Regions from separate parts of the Homo sapiens genome. Here regions 1, 2 and 4 are each reported to be linked to region 3. Evidence: microRNA targets listed by miRTarBase, many of them from high-throughput screens and not tested one by one. Region 3 holds a microRNA gene; each other region holds the end of a gene's coding sequence.
Evidence for each region. The annotated mature microRNA hsa-miR-3650 reads AGGUGUGUCUGUAGAGUCC and lies in region 3 at 2,673-2,691, opposite strand. An mRNA with a match to its seed (bases 2 to 7 or 8) in the 3' UTR can be bound and repressed. Matches are read on the target gene's strand: a 7mer-m8 pairs with bases 2 to 8, a 7mer-A1 pairs with bases 2 to 7 and ends in A, and an 8mer does both.

Region 1: the mRNA of AP4S1 is a reported target of hsa-miR-3650. The part of its 3' UTR that is shown has no 7-base or 8-base seed match.
Region 2: miRTarBase lists DBT as a target of hsa-miR-3650. Seed matches in the 3' UTR shown: 7mer-A1 at 2,448-2,454.
Region 4: miRTarBase lists GPBP1L1 as a target of hsa-miR-3650. Seed matches in the 3' UTR shown: 7mer-m8 at 982-988.

The regions. Positions count from the first base shown.
Region 1 is chr14:31,092,325-31,096,602 of GRCh38, forward strand. AP4S1 (adaptor related protein complex 4 subunit sigma 1) reads left to right here. Exons shown (of 6, transcript NM_001128126.3): 6 at 583-4,126. The coding sequence ends at 711. Among named protein-coding and RNA genes, the nearest start is that of STRN3, 68 kb to the left of the region's middle.
Region 2 is chr1:100,192,571-100,196,848 of GRCh38, reverse strand. It overlaps DBT (dihydrolipoamide branched chain transacylase E2), which reads left to right. Exons shown (of 11, transcript NM_001918.5): 11 at 427-4,278. The coding sequence ends at 594. It also overlaps the pseudogene RPL23AP90. Among named protein-coding and RNA genes, the nearest start is that of LRRC39, 16 kb to the right of the region's middle.
Region 3 is chr5:38,554,868-38,558,867 of GRCh38, forward strand. It overlaps MIR3650 (microRNA 3650), which reads right to left and starts at 2,694; the gene lies at 2,635-2,694. It overlaps LIFR (LIF receptor subunit alpha), which reads right to left and starts at 1,779. Exons shown (of 20, transcript NM_001127671.2): 1 at 1,467-1,779. It overlaps LIFR-AS1 (LIFR antisense RNA 1), which reads left to right and starts at 1,919. Exons shown (of 9, transcript NR_103554.1): 1 at 1,919-4,000. RefSeq lists enhancers at 1,920-2,703, 2,056-2,165.
Region 4 is chr1:45,624,709-45,628,986 of GRCh38, reverse strand. It overlaps GPBP1L1 (GC-rich promoter binding protein 1 like 1), which reads left to right. Exons shown (of 13, transcript NM_021639.5): 13 at 579-1,683. The coding sequence ends at 731. Among named protein-coding and RNA genes, the nearest start is that of CCDC17, 2.8 kb to the right of the region's middle.

The DNA of each region.
Region 1 (4,278 bases), not on the chromosome of region 3:
AGCCCCTCCTGAGGAGCCTATAAGCAGAGCAGTCAAGCCCAAGCTTTGGGTTTAAATTCAAACCTGGCATTTACTAGCCATGTGACCTTGGACTATGCTTTGAACCTGTTTGATCCTGGGTAAACTGAGGATAATATGTAACAACATACATCAGAGATTTGTAGAGGGCTGAAACTCAACACACTGTCTGGAACGGGAGTATTCAACAAATCGTTGCTACTGTTACTATTATTGTCTGGGAAGACAACACTATTTTTGAGTTAAGGTCATTCTCTTGCCACATGACACTGCTGTGTTCTCTAGCACTTAGTAGACCCCCTATCCCTTTGGTTAAAAAATGTAGCTGTTTCATTTTTATCCCTACTTATCCTGTTAGCTTAACCAAGGTGAAACTAGGTATGTATATATGAAGGTAACAATTTCTAATATGGATGCCAGTTTTAAATTTAATTTCAGAAATTTTGTACAAAAAACCTCATGCTTAGGCTAATTTACACTGGGAACACTCTAGGTTAAGCCATAAATTTTTACTGAATGTTAATAATTTTTAACTTTAAACTAATTTCCTTAATATAACCGTAGATAATGTTTAATTTGGATAAAGTACACATCATTTTGGATGAGATGGTGTTAAATGGCTGCATTGTGGAAACTAACAGGGCAAGAATTCTTGCCCCTCTACTAATTCTTGATAAGATGTCAGAAAGCTGAAAGGAAGTCTCTTCGAGACAATATGGATTTATCAGAAATGCGAGTACCGTGGAATACATCTCAACATGTTAACCCAGAAGAATCTGGAAGACCACAATTACAAAATGGGGTATCCTTCCAAAGACATTATAAATAGGCATTTTCCACAGTTCCTAAAAAGAAAACACAACTGTACTTTAAAATATGTACAAAGAAAAAAATTTCTTTAAACTGAGAGAGAAGTTTTATTTTCTAATTGTAAACATATCTGTCGCACTTTAAATTCTGTTGAGCACCTAAGGAACCCTTCTTGGTCTATGCTTCTTTTGCAAATTGAATTCAGGAATAGCAGGATGGTAGTGGGAAGAAAGTATGGCAGTTTTCCGTCAGCCAATAAAGTTTTAAAATTTAAACACAAGGCATTTTGAGTAACGCTGTTTTCTGAAAGCTATTTTTTTTTTTTTGAGACGGAGTCTAGTCTAGCTGTGTCACCTGGCACATTCTCGGCTCACTGCAACCTCCACTTCCGGGGTTCAAGCGATTCTCCTGCCTCAGCCTCCGAGCTGGGACTACAGGCATGCACCACCACACCTGGCTAATTTTTGTATTTTTAGTAGAGACAGGGTTTCACCATGTTGGCCAGGCTGTCTCAAACTCCTGACCTCAGGTGATCTGCCTGCCTCAGCCTCCCAGAACGCTGGGATTACAGATGAGCCACAGTGCCTGACTTCTGAAGGCTGTCTTATTCCTTTAAAAGGCTTAGTAAAATTAACTTTTTAAGAGGTGTTTTTTTGTTTGTTTTTTTGTTTTGTTTTTTAAGACGGAGTCTTGCTCTGTCACCCAAGCTGGAGTGCAGTGGTGTGATCTCAGCTCACTGCAACCTCCACCTCTGGGTTTAAGCAATTCTCCTGCCTCAGCCTCCTGAGTAGCTGCGACTACAGGCATGTAGTCCCCAGGAGACTGAGCTGTGATTACAGATGTGAGCCACCATGCCCTGCCCGGTTTTATGTAAAGCCCAGCTAATTTTTGTATTTTTAGTAGAGATAGGGTTTCACCATGTTGGCCAGGCTGTTCTTGAACTCCTGACCTCAAGTGATCCACCTGCTTCAGCCTCCCAAAGTGCTGGGATTACAAGCATGAGCCACCATGCCCAGCCAAGAGGTGTTTTTTGTTTGTTTGTTTTTAAGAGAAGCAGGTCTTGCTGTGTTGTCCAGGCTGGACTGCAGTGGCTTTTCACAAGCATGATCATGTTGTACTACAACCTTGAACCTTCCTGGCCTGGCTCTAAAAGCTTTGTAATGTGGGGCTGGTGCAGTGCCTCACACCTGTAACCCCTGCACTTTGGGAGGCTGAGGAAGGAGGATCGCTTGAGGCCAGAAATTCAAGACCAGCCTGGGCAACATAGACCTCATCTCTACAAAAAATGCAAAAATCAGCCGGGTGTGGTGGCACATACCTGTAGTCTCAACTACTCGGGAGTCTGAGGCAGAAGATTTCTTGAGCCCAGGAGTTCGAGTCTGCAGTGAGCTATGATCGTGTCACTGCACTCCAGCCTGGGTGACAGAGTGAAACCCTGTCTCAAAAATAAAAAAGTCCGAGTGCGGTGGCTCAGGCCTGTAATCCCAACATTTTGGGGGGCCAAGCCAGGAGGATTGGTTGAGCCCATTAGTTCAAGACCAGCCTGGGCAACACAGCAAGACCATATCTCTACAAAAAATAAATAGGTGTGATGGCTCATGCCTGTAATCCTAGTACTTTGGGAGGCCGAGGCAGGCAGATCACTTGAGGTCAGGAGTTTGAAACCAGCCTGGCCAACATGGCAAAACCTTGTCTCTACTAAAAATACAAAAAGTTAGCCAGGCATGGTGGCAAGCACCTCTAATCTCAGCTACTCAGGAGGCTGAGGCAGTAGAATTGCTTGAACCCGGGAGGCAGAGGTTGCAGTGAGCCGAGATCATGCCACTGCACTCCAGCCTGGGCGACAGAGTGAGACCCTGTCTCTAAAAATAAGTAAATAACTAATTAAAAAGTTAGCCAGCTGTGGTGGTGAGCACCTGTACTCCTAACTACTCAAGAGGCTGAGATGGGAGAATTGATCAAGCCTAGGAGTTTGAGGCTGCAGTGAACTATGATCACAACACTGTACTCCAACCTGGGTAATGGAGTGAGGCCCTGCCTCAAAAACACAAAAACAAAACAAAAAAACTTTTATAACATGTACCTAACAAAGATGCAGAGTTAAATTTTATTTGCCAGTTTGTAAAAGCCTTTGATACTCATTTTAAGGGCACTTAGTAATTACAATGCCATTATGTAATTAACTCTATAGAGAACATTACTTTCAAATAATGGATGGTCAGACATTAAGACAGCCCCAGAGAGCCCCTACAGCTATCCTTTATCCCGTTTTTTGTTTGTTTTTTGGAGACAGCATCTCCGTCTCCTAGGCTGGAGTGCAGTGGTGTGATCATGCCTCACTACAGCCTGTACCTCCTGGGCTCAGGTGCTCCTCCCACCTCAGCCTCCTGAGTAACTGGGACCACAGGTGCGCACCCCCTCCACCCAGCTAATTTTTGTATTTTGTTGTAGAGATAGGGTTTCACTATGTTGCCCAGACTGGTCTCGAATTCCTGCAGTCACATGATCCATCTGCCTTCGCCTTCCAAAGTGTTGGGATTACAGGCCTGAGCCACTGTGCCCAGTCTTTTTATGCCACATTTTAAAAGGTTTGCTTATTAATAAGCTTACTGTTAATGAAATTTAGTTCAAAGTTTAAAAGTAGAATGCAGCCAGGCATGGTGGCTTACGCCTATAATCCCAGCACTTTGGGACGCCAAGGTGGGTAGATCATTTGAGGTCAGGAGTTCAAGACCAGCTTGGCCAACATGGTGAGACCCTGTCTCTACTAAAACTACGAAAAATTAGCCGGGCATGGTGGCACGCGCCTATAATCCCAACTACTTGGGAGGCTGTGGTAGGAGGATCACTTGAACCCAGGAGACAGAGGTTGCAGTGAGTTGAGATCGAGATTGTGCCACTGCACTCCAGCCTGGGCACAGAGTGAGATTCCGTCTCAAAAAAAAAAAAAAAAAAAAAAGTAGAAAGCAAGAAAGTGTCTCTGTACAGGTAGGCATGAAATGAATCCTTCTCTTCCTCCCCTTTACTCCTTTAACCCCTTCTCCTGCAATGTCTTGAAGTAAATTACTGTCATTACAGAAGAGCAATGCACTGCATCCCCCCAAAACCTTTCTATATGCTTTTGCTACCCCGTTAACAGAAGAATATACAGAACTGTCTTAGGCGAAAGTATGTACAGTAGTCCCTCTCTTATCCACTGTTTCGCATTCTGTGGTTTGTGTTACTCATGGTCAACTGAGGTCCCAAAATATTAAACAGAAAATTCCAGAAATAAACAATGTATAAGTTTTAAACTGCATGCCATTCTGAGTAGTGTGATGAAATCTTGCACCATCCCACTTTGTCCTGCTCTGTCCCGCTCCGTCTTGCCTGGGAGGTGAATCGTCCCTTTGTCCAGCATATGCATGCTGTATACACTCCCCACTTGACAGTCATTTGGTAACTGTCTTG
Region 2 (4,278 bases), not on the chromosome of region 3:
CCAACTCAGTGGTCAGGGGAACTTGATAATGGCTTGTTTCCTCACTGCCTTCAGTGAGGAAGCCTTATTTAATTGTCTGTCTCTCCCCAGAGCCTAGAAGAATACTTGGCACATAGTGGGTATACAGTAAATAATTATTAAATATTTGAAATCTGAGATGAAAGTTAATGAATGTAGGTATGGGAATTGTACAAGGGATAGGAAGTACCTTGGAGAACTTCTGTAAGCTCCAGGCATATACTCAAAGATGGGAAGAGTAGGAATCAGCATTTTCAAAAGTCATTGGGGATGCCCATTTTTTTCTGTACTGTACAGGAAGAAGGGTTTGCCTGATCTTACACCATTGTTAGAGCTTGAGCTCTGAACAAGTGAAGGTTTACTCTTTGTTCTTTTTTTTTTTTTTTTTTTTTTTTTTTTCATTTCTAGGCCATTCCCCGATTTAACCAGAAAGGAGAAGTATATAAGGCACAGATAATGAATGTGAGCTGGTCAGCTGATCACAGAGTTATTGATGGTGCTACAATGTCACGCTTCTCCAATTTGTGGAAATCCTATTTAGAAAACCCAGCTTTTATGCTACTAGATCTGAAATGAAGACTGATAAGACATTCTTGAACTTTTTGAGCTTCCAAAGAGTATGTAAACCCTAGCTGTGCCAGCACATGTTCATCTTTACAATTTATATTGTAAATGATTTGTATCGTATGATTAAGGATCTAAGGCACAATATTTGTCACTGTTCTATTAGACTTTTTACTGAAAATGAATAATGGTGTAATGGTTCTCCTGGGGCTGTCACATTTTATAGGTCAGAGTGTGACTTCTTAATATGGTGCTGATGTTTTTGTGTCAATGGCTTGAAACTGGCAAGATTAACAAAATTAGGCCGGGCATGGTGGCTCACGCCTGTAATCCCAGCACTTTGGGAGGCCCAGGTGGGCGGATCACCTGAGGTTAGAAGTTTGAGACCAGCCTGGCCAACATGGTGAAACCTGGCCTCTACTAAAAATACAAAAATTAGCCGGGTGTGGTGGTGGGTACCTATAATCCCAGCTACTTGGGAGGCTGAGGCAGGAGAATCGCTTGAACCTGGGAGGTGGAGGTTGCAGTGAGCTGAGATCGTGCTATTGCACTCCAGCCTGGGCGACAGAGCAAGACGCCATCTCAAAAACAAAAAAACAAAATTCATGTTACTAAAAGACAGGTAGCCATATACAGACAGTATATGCCCTATTTTTTTTAACTGACTCTTAATGAAACTTTAATTTTACTTAATTAAGAAATGGAATTTATATACAAAAATATTTTCCATTTCCGTTATTATGCTAATTGTTGTATGAAATAAGTGCAATTATACTTCTCTTTTGAGATATCCAAGAGTATATTCTTGCTCTGTATAGAGAATATCATCTGATAGTGTCTTATTTATATTAATTAATGTCTTTGAAAAGGGAAAAGTATAAACTGGCCTTAAAATTGTCCAATTATAGTTTTATAACCAGTCTATTAAAGGTGTTTGTTTAAAATGGATATAGTTTTAGATTTGTGGTAATGCTTTGGTATTTTCTTGGGGAAGACCTTCACCTTTGCAAACTTCCCTCATGTAAGGAAGGTACTTTAAATGTAGCAGCCACTGACATTTCTTTTTTTAAAAAAAATTTGAGAAGTCTACTTCCTTTTAACTTTTTTGGTCTTCAGCTAAAAAATAGGATAAGAAATTAAGGTCTATTCCATTCTCCATATCCTGGGTAAGAATGTAAATAAGAGGAGAAGGAAGAGTCTAATAGTAATTATGGATATAAAAAATAAGAAATTTTGTATAGAAATGAAGGTTTCATAATGATCATTTTGTTAAAGGTCTACTTTAATCAGAAATAGCAACGAGATGAATGTATCCAACATTTCAATTTGCATTCGGAAATCCATGTTGTTTCTAATATTGTCCAGTTGAAAACTGTATGCCAAAATTAGTTGTTTAAGTGAAGTTTTGTGACAGAAAAAAGGTTGTTTTAATATCTACTTGGTTTTTCTCAAAATGGAAATAATTTTAAAATCAGGAAAGAATAAATCAGCCAGGTGTGATGACTTGTAACTGTAATCCCAGTTATAGGGGAGGCTGAAGCAGGAGGATCACTTGAGGCCAGGAGTTTGAGACCAGCCTGGGCAACATAGTGAGATCCCATCTCAAAAAACATTATTTTTAAAATTAGCCTGGTGGCTCACGCCTGTAATCCCAGCACTTTGGGAGGCCGAGGTGGCCAGATCACCTGAGGTCAGGAGTTCGAGACCACCCTGGCCAACATGGTGAAACCCCATCTCTACAGTTTTGTAAAAATACAAAAAATTACCTGGGCCTGGTGGCACACGCCTGTAGTCCCAGCTACTTGGGAGGCTGAGGCAGGAGAATTGCTTGAGCCCAAGAGGTGGAGGTTACAGTGAGCAGAGATCACACCACTGCACTCCAGCCTGGGTGGCAGAGCAACACTTTGTCTCAGAAAAAAAAAAAAAAACCAAAAAGCCAAGTGTGGTGGTGTGCACCTATAGTCCCAGCTACTCAGGAAGCTGAGACAAGAGGATCAATTGAGCCCAGGAGTTCAAAGCTGTAGTGAGCTGTCATTGTGCCACTATCCTCCAGTATGGGTGACAGAGTGAGACCTGGTCTCTAAAAAATAAAATAAAATAAAAAAAACAGGTCAAATAAATGCTGTTGTTGTAAAATTTCAGATAATACAAAGAGTTAACCAATAAAAGAAAAAGTCATTCATAATCTTACCACTATTAACATTTTGATGTATCTATCTGTATGTATGGCTATTCTTTTTTGTTAAAACATGATCATAGCATATCTACTATTTTATTATTTGATTTTTAAAATTTAACATTATATTATGGGTAACCTTACATGTCAATAAACAATTCCACATTGTCATGCTTTAAATGGCTGCATAGGCTGGGTGTGGTGGCTCACGCCTGTAATCCTACCACTTTGGGAGGCCAAGGCAGGTAGATCACAAGGTCAGGAGTTCGAGACCAGCCTGGCCAATATGGTGAAACCTCATCTCTATTGAAAATACAAAAATCAGCCAGGCACGGTGGCAGGCGCCTGTAGTCCACCTACTCGGGAGGCTGAGGCAGGAGAACTGCTTGAACCCAGCGGCAGAGGTTGCAGTGAGCCAAGATTGAGCCACTGCACTCCAGCCTGGTGATAGAGCGAGACTCTGTCTCTAAATAAATAAATAAATAAATAAATGTCTGCATAGTATTCCATTGTATGCATTTATTATACATTCAAACATTAAACATCTACCATACCAATCATGGTTCTAAGCATACAGTAGCCACCTTCATGCTTCCTTGATTGGGCTTACAGTCTAGTAAGGAGACAGATATTAAATAACTGCATAAAACACTGTTCTTGGTAGGTAATAACCCAGATGCTATGAGCCATCCAGTAAAGGTTACCGATCTTATCTGGAAGGATCAGAAGATGGATGTCCCATAATTTAACCAATTATCTATTGATAGGCATTTATTGAGTTTTAAATGAATAATGACATGATCAATAAAAATGTCCTCCTCACTTAAAGAATAGAAAAACCAGGAGAAGGGAGTTCTGAAATAAGTAAGTATGTAGGTCCAGCATCAATGGCTCAAGATACTCTATTCCCAAATAACCCTTAAGTTATCTGGTTCTATTCCAACCCTTGGGTATTACTATCTTCTCTTTGGTCTCATGCATTGAGAATTCAGCAAAGGATTTGTTCCCTACAGTGTGCACGGCCCTTAGGATAGCAGGATTCCCTGAAGAGGGCCAAAGGGGCAGGAGCGCAGCCTTAGTGGCAGTGCTGGTCCATGAGGCTCTACAAAGCAAGGGATGGGTGTTTGGGAGGAGGAAAAGGCTCTTGCTGTACTCCTAGAGGTTGGAATTAAAGTGGAAAAGCCAGAAAATTCAAGTCCTTTACTAACATGTCTGGAGATTAGAAGGTATATGTACATGGGGGAGAAGCCAAAATTATTGCTGCGAGTGGTCAGCAAGAAAATCAAGGCTCTTTTCATTATTTTGAGCATTCCTCTGATATTTGAAAAGGAAGTACAACAGGAAAGGAAGTCTGAGGATGGAAGCTAAAATTGGTATGAATTTATATTTTAGAGATCAAAATGTACCTTATGTTGAAACCTATGTAAGAAGTGATTATGTAGAAAGAGTGAAAGTGATAGCTCTTAGTCTGGAAAGCCCACTGGCTTGTTTGGGCATTTCTCATGGCTTCCCACTCAAAG
Region 3 (4,000 bases):
AGGATGACCATTCAGAAGCAAATTTTTCAAAAATCACAAAAGTTTTGCTCCTTCAACAGCAGAGTCCCTGATTCTCATTCCCCAGAAGAGAATACAAGTCTCCACTAATCAAGAGGCTTGCTAGTGATCTCACTCACCTATTACAAAGCAAAGAAGTCTCAATTCAATTCTTGAAGAGGAAATAGCTGCTCCGATCACCTTGGGAACACATCATATATTTAAATTGAGCTTGCAACTAACTCCCTAATGAAGTTTCCAAATGAACAGTTGCCCCCGACTATAAAGCATAAAGTCAACGTAGAAGACAACTAAAAGAATGGTCTCGTGTTTTTAAAAAACACATTATACTTAGGCTTCCTTTTCTCTGCCAGGCTTAGACAAGAAACTCTCTGGTAACAGTGAAATGTAATTTCAGATCTGTGACAAAATAATCATGTAAGGGGAAGGGCAAGTAGCATTCGCGCTGAAAAAACTCCTTGGTTTTTCCACTTGTGAAAAGGAAAGGTTTGCCTTAAATTTAATTTCTGTACCATTTCTGGACCCCTGCCTAAACGATACTACTATATCACATTAATCTTACTTCAAGCAAATACTTTTTAAAATTAAAAACTAATCTGAAACTGAACAGGAATCGGAAGACAAACTTTAAACTGAAACTTTTCTGTTGAAAGAATGTATCTTTTAAAGACACATAAAAAGAAATGCAAAGAACCGATTTCCATATAAATGCCACTCAATAACAATACAGGTTATAACAATATTTGACTGCATTAAACATTCAAAAAGGAACACAAAGATACCCAACTGCAAATAAAAGACCTCATATATTTTTGGTAGCGGAATGTGGGGGGTGGGGGGCAAAAATCACATTAATTCAGATTAATCATGTAAATTCAGAACACGTGATGTGCAGTTTTGTGTCGCTCAGAACTCCTGAATCCAGCTTTGTGCTTTTACACAACATAACAGAAATGGCATCTTTCACAAAGCCTAACTTTGACCTCCAACACTTTAACTTTGGGTTTAACCAGTACACCACCTTCGGAAGTTAGCACATAAAAATACAGGTAAGTCAAATGCACTACGGATACAGAAAGGACGAGGAACAGGTTTAAAGGGGAGTTGAAGCAGAGGGGCACGAAATCACCTGGCAGGTCACCTCTCCGAAGGAAAAACATTTCAAGCTCCCTCCCATCCCCCAGGTAACCTCTGGCCTCAGAACTCACTGCCCTGCGTGGGGCAGAAGTTCTGGGCGCTGGAGTCCGCGTCCCCCAGGACACGAGGGTGACCCAAGGGCGCGCGGAGAGCGGCGGGACCCGGAGCGGCGCTCTCCGGGGTCACTCCCCTAGGACGCTCCGCAGAGCTGGGAGCGCTGCCCCACCCCGCCCGGGCCGCCCCTGGGGACCCCGCTCGGGGCTCCGCGGCTCCCCTGCTCCGCGCCGCGCCCACCCGCCCCCAGGACTCACGGTACGCTCCCGCGCCGCTATCTTGCCATCCCCTGCCGCCGGCTCTGTAGCCTCGGCCGCCGCCCCGGGGCTGCCCAGATCCCACAGCCGCCCGGGGGCAGGAGCCGCCAAGGAGGGGGCCGGGCACAATGCGCCGCCGCCTCCGCAGCCGCCGTCTCGCCTCCCCTGTGTCGGCGCGAGGCTGCTTGAGGCGGCCACGGGCGAAGGGCGGCCCGCTGCGCTCCGCGAACCCCGCGGGCCGCCGCCGCCGCCAGAGCCTCCCAGAGGCAACGGTAACGGCCACCGCCACGGCCGAGTCGCTCCAGCCGGGACTGCGGCGCGCGGGGGCGGCGCCTGCACGCCGCTCGGCTGGGGGCGCAGCGGGCCCGGCCCCGCCCCTGACCCGCCCCTGCCCCCGGCCCCGGCCCCGCCCCAACCCGCGCGCCCCCGCCGATCCCCGGCCGCGCGCCCGCGCGCGCGGGTGCTCCAAGGAGTCGGAGGAACGCGGCCGCGCGACGGGCCCCGGACGCCGAGGGTGGTGCTTCCTCCGAGCCTCCGGTGGTGAGGCCGCTCTCAGAAGGTCATGGAAGCGCAGGGGAGAGCGAGGCGGCCGAGCCCAGGCAAATCCTCGAGAAAGGCCGAGTGCGCGACGGCTCTGCGGGGAGGACCGCGCCTCCCCGAATGCGGCCGCTGCTGCCGCTGCAAACAGTGCCTTGAGGAGAGGAAAGCGGGGAACCGTGTTTTCGCCGCCTCTGTAACCACTGCACACAAGAAAACCAGCTTCTGGGAGAGGGGGATGATTGTTGGGACTTTGCGAATTACCTAAACAGCCCAGGGCCGAGGCGCCGCCGCTCGCGTCCTGGTCCTCCTGCCGGGTGTGGGGCTCCCCTGCCCGAGATGGCCAGCGGGCGCGCCGAGAGTATCCTGGAGCCATCTAGTCTTGCCTCGGAGGCGGGGTGGGCTTATTTGTGCGGAGAAGAAACGGATCTCTTAATGGGGTGAGATTTTTCCTCCGTACATTGTTCCCATTTCCGCAGTTTCACTTGGCCTCGGTTTTCTAGCAGAGTAATCACCAAATGAAATTAGCTGGAGAGCGTTTGATGGCGCAGAATCACGGTCTGAAGATGTTTACGCTGTATGCCGGACGCGTTTGATGGTGTTCTCTTCGGCACAATTAATTTTGCAAAGTTCAGAAATGTGCCAGACAGAGCCCCTGGCACGCAGTCAGGACTCTACAGACACACCTTGAGTAGGAAACAGGCTTGTTTGTTTCATCTGTGATTTATGTGATGCACCAGCACCAAGGCCAACGTGTTTTTTAAAGACCTTTCGATGAAACTCCAAAGCAATTTATAAATTGGCAAAATGAAGCTTGTTTTGTAAAATAACTCTTCCTTGTTGATCATGTAATTAAATGGGCAACAAAACACCTGAAAGGACATTTACTGAAAAGTAGACTCCCAAAACAAAAATATGTATTTCACAGCTAGATACGGTCGCTATTAGCGTCCTAATGGCCAACTCCATCCATGTGCGTATTTTGAACACTAAAAACGCCTCCTGTTACCCCTAAGACCTTGTTTGGATAACATTTTTCTATTATAAGTACTCGAAACCAACCCCATTTAAGATGTTTACCCTTATTCTTGAGTCCTTGATGGTTTGGGAAATTTATCATTATTCATATTGCACAATCCTGTCACTGTCTTTTCCATTAGGCACAGTGCCTAAGGTCCACAATATTTTTAGAGGCCCACAAAAAATATTTTAATTTCTTTTCAAATCAGAAGGAAAAAAAATTTAGGTTTAAGAAAGTATTTTAATATATATTAATATATTTGTTTTTGTGCTAATACAATCTTAAAATGTATGTATATATGTGTGTGTGTATATGTATATATATTTTAATGGAGTAAGGGGCTCAACGAAGGCAAAAAGGCCTAGAGCCCAAGAAAAACATGATGTGGCCCTGTTGCCTGGGGTTGAAAAATCCCATTCCATGAGAAGAATTTAGTTTTAAGAATATTACATAAAATGCTCATTTCTGTGGCCTTGCTATAATAGAAAGATGGAGATTCAGAGTAGTGATAATGGCTAACATCCACCTGATACACACCATGTGTCCATTACCTCTTAATCCTCACAGCACACCTGTGAAATAGGTACTATTCTCACACTTAGGGGGTAATGCAGGTTTTGTGGGGCCTGCAATTTATGCAATTTGGGTGGTCCTCTTAAAGAAAAAGCAAATACTGTGTATTAGTCCGTTCTCACACTGCTATAAAGAACTGCGCGAGACTGGGTAATTTATAAAGGAAAGAGGTTTAATTGACTCACAGTTCCACATGGCTGGGGAGACCTCAGGAAACTTAACAATCGTGGTGGAAGGAGAAGCAAGTACCTTCTTCACAAGGAAGCGGAAAGAATTGTGAGCGGAGGAACTTGCCAAACACAAAACCGTCAGATCGCGTGAGAATTCAGTTACTATCACGAGAACAACACGGGAAAACTGTCCCCATAATCAAGTCATTTCTCTCCCTAACAAGTGAGGATTA
Region 4 (4,278 bases), not on the chromosome of region 3:
AACTCTGTTAGAAATAAGGACTTATGGCTGGGCACAGTGGCTCACGCCTGTAATCCCAACACTTTGGGAGGCCGAGGCAGGCAGATGACGAGGTCAGGAGCTCAAGAGCATACTGGCCAATATGGTGAAGCCCCATCTCTACTAAAAATACAAAAATTAACTAGGCGTGGTGGTGTGCGCCTGTAATCCAAGCTACTTGGGAGGCTGAGGCAGGAGAATCGCTTGAACCCAGGAGGCGGAGGATGCAGTGAGCCAAGATTGTGCCATTGCACTCTAGCCTGGGTGACAGAGCGAGATTCCGTCTCAAAAAAATAAATAAATAAAAAGAAATAAGGACTTTCAAGCCCCATCCCAGACATTCTGAATCTGAATCTGCATTTTTGAAAGATGCGTAGATGACTCGTAAATTAAAATTTGAAAAGTACTGGTATAAGAGATCTCAGAGGGTCTCTTAGAAGCACCCCCCGCCCCACATTCTACCTAGAATTGAATTGAGGCCTGGCCTTTCCCAGGGCTTATGGGTCAGTACAGTCATTGATATTTTTTTCTTTTTTCTTTCTCTCCCATGCTAACCATAGCTGAGAAGAAATGGCTTTGGAAAGAATGGCTTCTTGCAGAGCCGCAGTTCCAGTCTGTTCTCCCCTTGGAGAAGCACTTGCAAAGCAGAGTTTGAGGACTCAGACACCGAAACCAGTAGCAGTGAAACATCAGATGACGATGCCTGGAAGTAGGCATATAAATGCTCACAGTTAAATCTGACCCAGTAAACTCTGTGTGTTTAGGGAGTATACAAAAGAAATCGTTCTTTTCCTTTTCTTATGTTGTTGAATACTTCATTCACAAGGGAAATAATCATATCCCAAAGAGAGAGCAATTGGCTTGTTTTGCTTTTGTTATTGTTCTTCCCTGTTATCTGCTTTATAGAGAGAAGTTTGTGTGGTGGGACAGATTTTTTAAACACACTCACACACACACACACATACACACCCAGTATATATGGGGCGATGCACAGGTAGGAGCTGGCAGTGCAGGGAAGAGGAGACACTGGTCTGCAGCAACAGCTTCTACTACCAGCCCTTGGGGCACTCACCCCTGTGATCAAGCAATCATTGTCAATGACAAAGTGACTATTGAAGTTATAATTGTATTAAATTAATGCTAATAATTTGGATATTTTATTTTATTTTTGGCTGCTCGGGTAACTTTAGCCCTTAACCAAGCATATGTGGGTTTTTTTGGTTGTTTTTTTTTGTTTTTTTTTTCTTTTTCCTTTTTGGGTACAGCTGTAAAATATTTGGATATAGGAAATGTTGTGTTATTCTTGCAGCCTTGATATTCAGGGTGGATTGTAAAATATAAATTTTTGTGAGATTTCAAAGATTAAGATTATTTTGATAACATTATTTACAGATTTAAAAGATGTGGTTATCACAAGTCTCGAGGGGGAAACTACTGCATAAAATAACTAACTTGGAATAAATATTTTGCATCAGTTTGGATTGTCTTGTGTAAGAAGTATATTTTCTTTAAAATTAGATGAGTGGATTCTTTTTTAGGGGAAATATTTTTAGAAGTTGGGGGGAAATGTGAATTCAGACACAACTGTTTCTCTATTTTAGCAGATACTTTTTTGATGCAGAAAAACCTGTGCAATAAATTACCAGTAATAAAGTCAGAAACCAAGTTTTTTTTTTTTCCTGAAACTGTTTTTTAGTGCCCATGTATTTACCAGTGTACGTATTTTAAGGGAAGTCTGTTCTGTTTTCCTACTAAATAAGAACTTGGAGTGGGGGTTGGGGGAGAGTTGGACGATGGTAGCTGAATGGCTAGTGAAGGAAGCAGGTTTTTTCATTCAACAAATACTTTTTTTTTTTTTTTGAGACGGAGTCTCACTGTGTCACCCAGGCTGGAGTGCAGTAGCGATCTCAGCTCACTGTAAGCTCCGCCTCCCGGGTTCCCACCATTCTCCTGCCTCAGCCTCCTGAGTAGCTGGGACTACAGGCGCCTGCCACCACGCCTGGCTCATTTTTTGTATTTTTAGTAGAGATGGGGTTTCACCGTGTTTGCCAGGATGGTCTCGATCTCCTGATCTTGTGATCCACCCACCTCGGCCTCCCAAAGTTCTGGGATTACAGGCGTGAGCCACCGCACCCGGCCCATTCAACAAATACTTTCTAAGCCCGTGTTGTATGTCCCAGGCATTATGCAAGGCTCTGAGGATGCAAGGAGTGCCCAGCCCAGTAGGGGAGAGAATAGACAGTGATGTAAGAAAAGGACAGGGGTTCAAGACCAGCCTGGGCAACACAGTGACCTGTCTCTATAAAAAACAAAAACATTAAAATGGTCAGGTCCAGCCAGGCGTGGCTCACGCCTGTAATCCCAGCACTTTGGGAGGCTGAAGCGGGTGAATCACCTGAGGTCAGGAGTTCGAGACCAGCCTGGCTAACATGGTGAAACCCCATCTCCACTGAAAATACAAAAAATTAGCCAGGCATGGTGGCGGGCGCCTGTAGTCCCAGCTACTCGGGAGGCTGAGGCAGGAGATTGGCGTGAACCCAGGAGGCAGAGCTTGCAGTGAGCTGAGATAGCGCCACTGCACTCCAGCCTGGGAGAAAGAGTGAGACTCTGTCTCAAAAAAAAAAAAAAAAAAAAACAACCAGGCATGGCAGCAAGCACCTGTAATCCTAACTATTTAGGAGGCTGAGGCAGGAGAATTGCTTGAGCCCAGGAGGCAGAGGTTGCAGTGAGCCCATACTGCACCATTGCACTCCAGCCTGGGCAACAGAGCAAGACTCTGTCTCAAAAACAGAAACAAAATAGACAGGTCCACGTGGTAGCACACACTTGTAGTCCCAGCTTCTTGGGAGGCTAAGGCAGGAGGATTGCTTGATTCCAAGGCAGTTCAGGGCTACAGTGAGCCATGATGGCACCACTACAATCCAGCCTGGATGACAGTCCTGCTCCCGCCTCTTCGGCCTAGAGCAGGAGATTAGAGAACTACAAGCTGTCTCTTGAGGGAAAAAAAAAAAAAATGGTAGTAGTATTTCTACTGAATGCCTATCACTGTTGCACCATTGTAAAGTCAACCAGTCAAAAGTCTTAACCATTGAAAATTGGGACAAACTTAGTTGTTGAAAAGGAGGTTTTGATTTGGGCTTTGCCATTTACTTGTTTTCTGAGAACATATTTCTAAAAATGTACTCTTTATGTCAGTTGGAATTAAGCTGAACTGAGATGACATACTTTGAACACTTTGTAACTTGCTGCTGGTGGGTCATACCTTGGCTTTAGGTACTGAGTAGGGAAATGTCTTAAGTCCCTGTCTTGTTTAGAAAAGGGAGTTTCGGCCAGGCATGGTGGCTCACACCTGTAATCCCAGCACTTTGGGAGGCCGAGGCGGGGGAATCACGAGGTCAGGAGATCGAGACCATCCTGGCTAACACTGTGAAACCCCGTCTCTACTAAAAATACAAAAAATTAGCCAGGCATAAGGCTGGGCGCAGTGGCTCACGCCTGTAATCTCAGCACTTTGGCACGCCGAGGCGGGCGGATCACAAGGTCAGGAGATCAAGACCATCCTGGCTGACACGGTGAAACCCCATCTCTACTAAAAATACAAAAAAAATTAGCCGGGCACAGTGGTGGGCACCTGTAGTCTCAGCTACTCGGGAGGCTGAGGCAGGAGAATGGCTTGAACCCGGAAGGCGGAGCTTGCAGTGAGCCCAGATAGTGCCACTGCACTTCGGCCTGGGCGAAAGAGCGAGACTCCGTCTAAAAAAAAAAAAAAAAAAAAGCCGGGTGTGGTGGCAGGTGCCTGTAGTCCCAGCTACTGGGGAGGCTGAGGCAGGAGAATGGTGTCAACCTGGGAGGCAGAGCTTGCAGTGAGCCGAGATCGTGCCATTGCACTGTAGCCTGGGCAACAGAGCGAGACTGTCTCAAAAAAAGAAGAGAAAAGGGTGTTTCTTGGCCGGGCGCAGTGCCTTACGCCTGTAATCCCAGCACTTTGGGAGGCCAAGGCGGGCAGATCACGAGGTCAGGAGATCAAGACCATCCTGGCTAACATGGTGAAACCCCGTCTCTACTAAAAAATACAAAAAATGAGCCAAGCGTGGTGGTGGGCACCTGTAGTCTCAGCTACTTGGGAGGCTGAGGCAGGAGAATGGCGTGAACCCAGGAGGCAGAGCTCATTGCAGTGAGCTGAGATCGCGCCACTGCACTTCGGCCTGGGCGACAGCGAGACTCCATCTCAAAAAGAAAAAAAAAAAAGTAAAGAGGGTT